Regions from separate parts of the Homo sapiens genome. Here region 2 is linked to region 1. Evidence: fine-mapped QTL for protein levels in blood plasma. Region 1 holds a variant in brackets. A gene starts in the other region. All regions are shown on their reverse strands. Region 1 overlaps SMIM33 (small integral membrane protein 33). Region 2 holds the start of IFIT3 (interferon induced protein with tetratricopeptide repeats 3).

Evidence for each region. A credible set is the group of variants that fine-mapping cannot tell apart. PIP is the chance, under the fine-mapping model, that this variant and not a neighbour inherited with it causes the effect. Protein levels are from antibody-based Olink assays in UK Biobank. Linkage for the fine-mapping came from a reference panel and not from the study's own genotypes, which makes the PIPs less certain.
Region 2: IFIT3 starts here. The variant in region 1 is the best candidate, but not a certain one, in a credible set for the plasma level of the IFIT3 protein (UK Biobank, PIP 0.76).

What each region holds. Positions count from the first base shown.
Region 1 is chr5:139,471,813-139,476,202 of GRCh38, reverse strand. SMIM33 (small integral membrane protein 33) reads right to left here. Exons shown (of 2, transcript NM_001365197.1): 2 at 2,503-3,671. The coding sequence ends at 3,282. It overlaps STING1 (stimulator of interferon response cGAMP interactor 1), which reads left to right. Exons shown (of 8, transcript NM_198282.4): 8 at 1-670. Among named protein-coding and RNA genes, the nearest start is that of SMIM33, 3.0 kb to the right of the region's middle. RefSeq lists enhancers at 1,040-1,561, 3,126-3,647. The variant T/G (reference allele first, on the strand shown) is at 1,585.
Region 2 is chr10:89,326,103-89,330,492 of GRCh38, reverse strand. IFIT3 (interferon induced protein with tetratricopeptide repeats 3) reads right to left here and starts at 2,496. Exons shown (of 2, transcript NM_001549.6): 1 at 2,415-2,496. The coding sequence starts at 2,419. It also overlaps a transcript of LIPA not described here. RefSeq lists enhancers at 208-267, 2,489-2,728 and a silencer at 2,119-2,168.

The DNA.
Region 1 (4,390 bases):
CTCTTCAGTGGCTGAATGTCCAGCAGAGCTATTTCCTTCCACAGGGGGCCTTGCAGGGAAGGGTCCAGGACTTGACATCTTAAGATGCGTCTTGTCCCCTTGGGCCAGTCATTTCCCCTCTCTGAGCCTCGGTGTCTTCAACCTGTGAAATGGGATCATAATCACTGCCTTACCTCCCTCACGGTTGTTGTGAGGACTGAGTGTGTGGAAGTTTTTCATAAACTTTGGATGCTAGTGTACTTAGGGGGTGTGCCAGGTGTCTTTCATGGGGCCTTCCAGACCCACTCCCCACCCTTCTCCCCTTCCTTTGCCCGGGGACGCCGAACTCTCTCAATGGTATCAACAGGCTCCTTCGCCCTCTGGCTCCTGGTCATGTTCCATTATTGGGGAGCCCCAGCAGAAGAATGGAGAGGAGGAGGAGGCTGAGTTTGGGGTATTGAATCCCCCGGCTCCCACCCTGCAGCATCAAGGTTGCTATGGACTCTCCTGCCGGGCAACTCTTGCGTAATCATGACTATCTCTAGGATTCTGGCACCACTTCCTTCCCTGGCCCCTTAAGCCTAGCTGTGTATCGGCACCCCCACCCCACTAGAGTACTCCCTCTCACTTGCGGTTTCCTTATACTCCACCCCTTTCTCAACGGTCCTTTTTTAAAGCACATCTCAGATTACCCAATGTGAGTGTGTCGTCTTTTTCCTGCTGGACTCTGACCGATATAACAGATGGGAATTACTGTCCCTAATGTCCAAACCTGCCTGCACATGCATGCCTCCCTGCACCCCTCCTCATCTTGGTACAGGGCAGCAGGGTGCTGCGTGTCATTTACCATCTGGACAGAGCCTACCAGTTGGGCTGAGGGCACCTGTCCTTTCAGTGCCTTTCTCTTCAGTGAGAGGCTTGGGGAGCAGGGACCATAGGCTGGCCTGAGCCAGCACACAAATGATGCCATGAAGGAACACAGCTGTGTCCTGGGCAAGGGGCCACTCAAAGGAGCAGGTGTCACTATAGGTGCCAGATGAGAGAGCCTGCAAACGGACAAGGGGGAAAGAGTTTGTGTGATGAGATGGGACAGTCCCTGGAGGGCCTTGGACAGCACAGCCAGCTGCCGTGCCATACCTTCCACCATCACGGTTACAACTGAGCCACTGATTCAACACTGTGGTGGCACAGCTGTCCCCATCTGGGAGGGAAGGCAGCCCATCTCTGTTAGTTCCATTTGTCTCACCAAGCTGGGCTCCTTCCCTCCCTCCCACCTTTTTTTTTTTTTTTTTTGAGTTGGAGTTTCGCTGTTGTCACTCAGTCTGGAGTACAACGGCACGATCTCAGCTCACTGCAACCTCCGCCTCCCGGGTTCAGGCGATTCTCCTGCCTCAGTCTCTTGAGTAGCTGAGATTACAGACATGCACCACCATGCCCGGCTAATTTTGTATTTTTAGTAGAGACGGGGTTTCGCCAGGCTAGTCTTGAACTCCTGACCTTGGGTGATCCTCCCACCTTGGCCTCCCAAAGTGCTAGGATCACAGGCATGAGACACCGTGCACTGTGCCTGGCCTGTTTTGGTTTTTTTTGTTTTGTTTTGTTTTG[T/G]TTTTTTTTGGTCACAAAGGCTCAATATACATTTCTGAGTACAGCATCACTGTGGAGAAATGCTCCACACAGACACACATGGGTTAGAAGGAACTGGCTGCCCCTAAGAACGGCAGAGCCAAGGGAGTCAAGGGGGAACAGTCCCCACTCTCCCTAAGTATCCCACCCTGTCCTCAAGGCCTGAAGATCCTCCATCATCACACCAGTGGCTTGTATACTAGAAACCAGCCCAGAATCAAAGGCCTTTCCAATCCATCCAGTAACTGTCATGGGGCTTAGGCTGTGGAGTCTGATGGCCCCAGCTTCAAATCCTGACTCCACCACTTAGGACCTGTGTCTACTTAGGTATCTTGATAACCCTCAGTTTCCCCAAGTGTAAAACGGGGATAGCAGTGGCCCCTCCCCTGGAGGTTGTTGTGAGGAGTGAATGGTATCATATCTGTAGGTCCACAGAGAAGCCTGGTGTCCAGCACTTAGCTGACCCACAACAAGGGGCAGCTATTAACACTTTAGCTGCCTCTCCCCAATCCCAAAGGAGGCAAGCCTGCCCTCTGCACACACTGCAATCCCCACCTCTGTTCCTTTTTATATTCTGTTATTTCCCAGCCTCCCTGACTGTGGTGGGGTCTTGCCAATGCCCCCAGGGGACTTCTTGTCCCCAGGAGTTCCCCAGGGTAGAGCACCAGAGGTCCTGCCATAAATGTCTGTCTGCGTGTTCTTGACTGCAGATGAGTAAGATTCAGAGGTGCTGGGGAAGGCAGTGCCACCAGCAGGCACTGAGCCACCAGGAGGCCCAGTTTTGTCTTCCTGGCTTCTGGATGCATCATCCTGACCCCCCTGCTGATTAGACCCAGGCACTCCCACAGCTGGGAGTGGTCCCCACCCCACTCCTTCCTTCCCAAAACAAGTTCCATGGAGCTCCTTTTCCTTTCCTGTTTTCTCATCAGCCGGAAAGATCTGGGAAATGTCCTGTGGTACATTCTAGGCTTGTTCCAACAGGCCCAGGCACACAGAAAGTGGGAGGCAATGAGAGGCTCCCAAATTCCCCCATCCCTTCTGGAGAGGCAAGACAGAGTCAGTGGGGGCCTTTGAAAGCCAATCTTTGAACTATAAATTGTGCTTGGGCTTACAAGGACTTCGGAGCTTGTCAACAAGGTCTGGGCCCTAACAGCCGAAGGACTGCCCCTGACTGACTGCCCCAAGGAGAACAGACGTTCGTCACTTCCCTAAGACCAGTGAGCCTAAGGGAAGGCAGATCCCAGCTTCTCCGCCTGGGCTCTCCCTGGCTGGCCTTTGTAGGATGAGGGCCTCTCCACGGGGCCTCTGACATTCCTGCTTGTGGGGAGTTGGATTCACATTACAAAGGAAGGAGATTAAGCGTGCAATGAAGGGGCAGAGACTCAGAAAAGGAGATTCAGGGGTCTGGTGGTCCCTGAAGAGGAGGGAGGGACTTTGTGAGGTGGCCTTGGGCCCTGGGAAGGCCCCCCGCAGCATGTTTCTGGGCAGGGCCCTCAAGTTTTGATTTCTCTTGCCCACCACAGGGCTCTCTCTATAAATGTTCTGAGAGAGCAGCTCCAGCTGAGTCCAGTGTGCCCTTCCGACGCTCTGATGCCCAGGCTCCAATTTGCTTTTGCCCTAGTTCTCTGCCCGGTTTCTTGTTCTGAGCTAGGTCAGGCTAACTCTCCAAAGTCTCCCTCCTACAGACAAGTGACTTCATCGATGCTGGGCCTGGGTCCATCTGGCGCAGGGCAGGAGCCAGGGACAAGAGGGCCCGGTGGTGCTTCTTCAGGACTGTCTTGGGGGCCCAGCACCCGCCAGTGGATGAGGTAGATGCCACCATCTGGCTTTGGGGTCGGTGGCTCTGTAGGGAGAGTGGCATGGCCCTGGTGCAGCCTTGGCCCAAAATGGACTGCCACTATGATGCAGACTGCCAGCAGAACAAAGACAGCGACAATGACGGTGACCACAGGCAGCCCGTCAACTCGAGGTTGTTCCCAGGTGCCACTTAGCACCTCCGGAAGCTGCCTCTGGGGCTCCTGCTCTGATGAACTGTTCACAGCTGGAGAAGGCCAGGAGTAGTGGCCAGCCTGGGAGGAGAGTGGCAGAGAGAGAGGGTGACATGGATGTATACACACAGAAAAAGACCAAAATAGAAAGAGACAAACACCCAAAGGAACCTGAGGCGGGGGGTTGAGGGCGGGAGGGACCAGAGACAAAGACAGAAAGACAAAAAGTCAGAGTAAAGACCTGGAGAGAGGCAGAGAATACAGAGGTAAACCACATGGCAGCAGAGACGATCAAAGAAAAAGGCAGAAAAGGCAGAGGGGGATACAGAGAGGGAGAAAGAAAGAGGAAAGGGGAAAGAAAAAGGCACATAAAAACAGACAGAAATAAAGATACAGACAGAGACAGAGAAAAAAGAAACAGATGCAGGGAGACAAAGACATTCAGACAGGGTCAAAGAGAGTGCTGGCTTCATCACAGTCCAGCGTATACAGTTTGGCCCCCCAAGTTTCCTCCCACTGTCCCCTTTTCCCAGGTCTCCAGCAAAATTCCTAAATAGATCCTGTGCCCTGGGTCGGGAGTCTTGGCACGCTATGGGCTGCTGTCCCCACATCCTAGGCAGTGGGCAGAGAGCACCTGCTTCTTAAAGTCCTGGGGAAAGGGGGTCCTTGTCCAGCATTTTAGGCTCCCCTTACTCCCCACTCACACAGAAGACAGACAGGTGGTGCCCTGGCGGCGGGAGAGGTAGAGGTAGAGGTAGAGGGGATGTGAACTTAGAAGGCAGGGGGATGCCTCTTTCCAT
Region 2 (4,390 bases), not on the chromosome of region 1:
ACTCTCCAGATAGGAAGCCCATCCCTGGCCCCCTCTCTAAAGTGAGCATAGTTGAAAGCATTAAGATCTTTCACCTTTTGGCCATTGGGCATAGAGTCAGATGATCAGCAGTAGAGTTTGGTGCCTCCATTAATGACTCTGCTCTGACACCTGCTCTCTATCTGATGTCTTGGGCAAGTAATTTGCCCTTCTAAGCCCCATTTTGGTCATCTAGAAAATGAGGCTAATAATAGAAATAATAGCTCTTACTTCCTAGGGCTGTTGGAAGGGTGATATGAGGTCATGCGTAAAACGTGTTTAACACAGTGCCCACTTGTCAGGCCTCTGAGCCCAAGCTAAGCCATCATATCCTGTGACCTGCATGTACACATCCAGATGGCCAGTTCCTGCCTTAACTGATGACATTCCACCACAAAAGAAGTGAAAATGGCCTGTTCCTGCCTTAACCGATGACATTATCTTGTGAAATTCCTTCTCCTGGCTCATCCTGGCTCAAAAGCTCCCCTACTGAGCACCTTGTGACCCCCACACCTGCCCACCAGAGAACAACCCCCCTTTGACAGTAATTTTCCTTTACCTACCCAAATCTTATAAAATGGCCCCACCCCTATCTCCCTTCCCTGACTTTCTTTTCGGACTCAGCCCACCTGCACCCAGGTGAAATAAACAGCCTTGTTGCTCACACAAAGCCTGTTTGGTGGTCTCTTCACACGGACTTGCATGAAACCACTAACTACAGATCACAAAGAAATGTTACCACCATGATTGCTGGTACTAATATATTTGTGTTATAATTTTAAGTGAATTTGTGAGTGTGTAAAGGGAGCAACAGAGTTCCTCAGTGGATGGGGCAGAGGAGGATGCCCATCAGCTGGCACGTGCCAGTGAGTTCTCCAGGTGATTTTCCCATTTGGAAATTTTTAGCACAACTGGGGAGGAGCAGCCCAATCTCTTCCTGTTCCTATAGCCTCTGGAAATAGGAGCACCTTGATGTGAACCTGAGTCCAGCATAGTTCAGAGAGCCCCCCTCAGACCTCCTCAGGTCAGTGGCTATAGACACACCTAAAGACAGGACCCTGTAAAACCTTTCCTGCAAGCTGGCTACTAAGACGCCTTGCTCTCTGGTCAATCCCACTCACACAGACACAATTAACATCACTCTTGACCAGGAACTTATTCTATATAAAAGGGTATTCTATATACTGAGGTATTTGGCAGTGAATTCCTCTTACCCATCTCATCCCCAAACATGACATTGCAGAGCATCTTCAAGTCCTTGGGGCAGAGTAAGGTAGGGAATCCAGTTTTCCTTTTCTGCCCCCCTGAATGGTCGATGGGGTCTTCCCTCCCTGGCAATCACCTCCTCACTCCTTTCCTAGAGATGCTTGGTGGGAAAGGCATCCTTTTCTCTTAGTTCTCCCTAACATGCTATCCCCTGAAGAACTCCAGGAGGTCAATATATAAATTTAAAAATCAAGTTTACTGAGATTATGCTTTATATACAATAAGATGCACCCATTTTCAGTGTATAGTCTGATGAGTTTTGGTAAATGTTTATGCATATGTAGCCACCATCACTACCTCCCTATAGACTATTCCTATGATTCTAAAAAGATTCTTTTGGGAGCCTTCCTACTCAATCCCCACCATCTCCAGGCAACCACTGATCTGCTTCCCACCATTAGAGATTAGACTAGTTTTAGATAATAGATTAGGTCATTACACTTTTGAGGAGAAATTCTTTTTTTGCTGCTGACCAGCATTCACTACATCAATAAAAATAAATGCTAAGCTTTGGGTTTGTTTTTATATAAGAAATGACAAAAATGCCCATTTGTAAGAATTGTTTCTTCCACTTCCCACCTTAAAGTAATGCAACGTTTCAGGGCAAAATTGCCTTCTTCATGAGTGGGTTTGCAGTACTGATTGTATCTTTCACAATATCTGTTGAAAATAAATTCCTCCTTTTAAAATTACAAGAAAAAAAGCCTGTGACTTAATCTTTTCAAACAAAATGACAATAACAGAAAAACCCAAAAGAGTAATTCCCTTAGGTCTACCCTTGAATCAGCCAAGTTTGTGGCTGAGTGAAATACACCGCTCCTGCCAAGCCTTCCTCTCATTGCAGGAAATAGCTGCACACAGGGAGGAAACATGAGCTGATGCATTCCCCACCCTGCCTCCCCCCATGTAGTTCCGTAGGGAACCATTCCAGAAACTTAAGAAGCCTGTGTGTACACCAAAAAAAGCCACAGGGAAAAACCCCTCAAACATCTTACAAATGCTCAGACTGATAAAGACATATTGAATCTATAAACATCAGGACAATTCAGGAATGTGCCTGCACAGTAAGAAACTCAACTTACAATTTGCACTCAAAAACAAGCATGATTATGCATTCTTATTTCACTGACCTCATGACTGCCCTCTGTGTCTCTGCTGTTCCGAAAAGCTGGTGACCAGGCTGATTTGTTCTTCAGAAGTCTTCCTGTCTGCCTCAAGTAAATACTGAAGGAACTATATAAAGGGGTGGGAGAGTAGGGCACGCATCAGCTGATGTTTTCTCCGTTTTTGAGTAATTGCTTTTAGGGGAAGGAAGAGGAAACTGGAAAGTGAAACTAATTTAAAATCGTTGGGAGGAGGAAAATGAAACCTAACGGCTTGAGACCTGCAATGGCTGAGCCAGAGTACGTTATTCAAAACTGTGACTAAAATTTGTTTGAGAGAATGTGGAAGCATTCCTAATGTAAACCAAAAAATTAAATTCTAAGGCCATACTCACCAACCATGTGACTGGACCCCTGCTTTTGGCCAAGGGCATTCCAAAGTTAACCTGAAAACTGATGTGAAGGGGAAGCTGGATATGCCTCATTACATCCTTTTTCCTTTTGGAATTACTAATAGAACACACTCTTTTTTTGTTTTTGTTTTTGTTTTTTTTTGAGACAGAGTCTTACTCTGTTGCCCAGGCTGGAATGCAGTGGCATGATTGCGTCTCACTGCAACCTCTGCCTCCTGGGTTCAAGTGATTCTCTTGCCTCAGCCTCCCGAGTAGCTGGGATTACAGGCACCCACCACCATGCCCGGCTAATATTTGTATTTTTAGTAGAGACGAGGTTTCGCCATGTTGGTCAGGCTGGTCTTGAACTCCTGATAGCAGGTGATCCAACCACCTTGGCCTCCCAAAGTGCTGGGATTACAGGCATGAGCCACTGCACCCAGCCAGAACATGCTCTTTTTAAGTGTATTAAGAAACATTTACAACCTATTCTCTCTGAAGCCTGCTACTTGGAGGCTTCATCTGCATAATAAAACCTTGGTCTCCACGACCCAGACATTCCTTTCTAATGATTGTCTATTGAATTTCTATTGGATGTCTCCAAACATTCCTTTCTATTGATAATAACTCTTTCAACAAATTGTCAATCAGAAAATCTTTGAATCTGCCTATGACTTGGAAGCTGCCCCGCTTCCCTGTTTCCAATTGTCCCACCTTTCTGGACCTAGCCAATGTACACCTTACATGTATTGATTGATGCCTTATGTCTCCCTAAAATGTATAAAACCAAGTTGTGGCCTGGCACATGTTCTCAGGATCTCCTGAGGGCTGTGTCACAGGCCATAGGTCATTCATATTTGGCTTAGAATAAATCTCTTCAAATGTTTTACAGAGTTTGACTTTTTTTGTCAACATTAGGTATCTGACCATCAGTCTAGGGTGGGGCCCAGGAAACAGCATTTTTTAAGCCAATTCTTATTATTTTTAAAAATTTTTTGTGGACACATAGTAGATATATATATTTATGGGGTACATGAGATATTTGATGCGAGCATACAATGAGTAATAATCACATCAGGGTAAATGACTTCAAGCATTTATTCTTTGTATTACAAACAATCCAATTATACTCTTTTAGTTATTTTGAAATGTGCAATAAACTATTGTTGACTATAGTCATCCTCTTGTTCTAACAAACACTAGATCTTATTAATTCTATCTAAGTATATTTTTGTACCCATTAACCATCCCCACTTCCCCCGCTACTACTCTTCCCAGCCTCTAGTAATCATCATTCTAATCTCTATCTCCATAAGTTCAATTGTCTTAATATTTTTAGCTTCCACAAACAAGTGAGAATATGTAAAATTTGTCTTTCTGTGCCTGGCTTAATTCACTTATAATGACCTCCACTTCTATCCATGTTGTTGCAAATGACAGGATCTCATTCTTTTTATGGCTAAAGAGCACTCCGTTGTGTAAATGTACCACATTTTCTGTATCCATTCTTCTGCTGATGGACACTTAGGTTGCTTCCAAATCTTGGCTATTGTGAATAGTGCTGCAATAAACATGGGAGTGCAGATATCTCTTTGATGTACTGATTTCCTT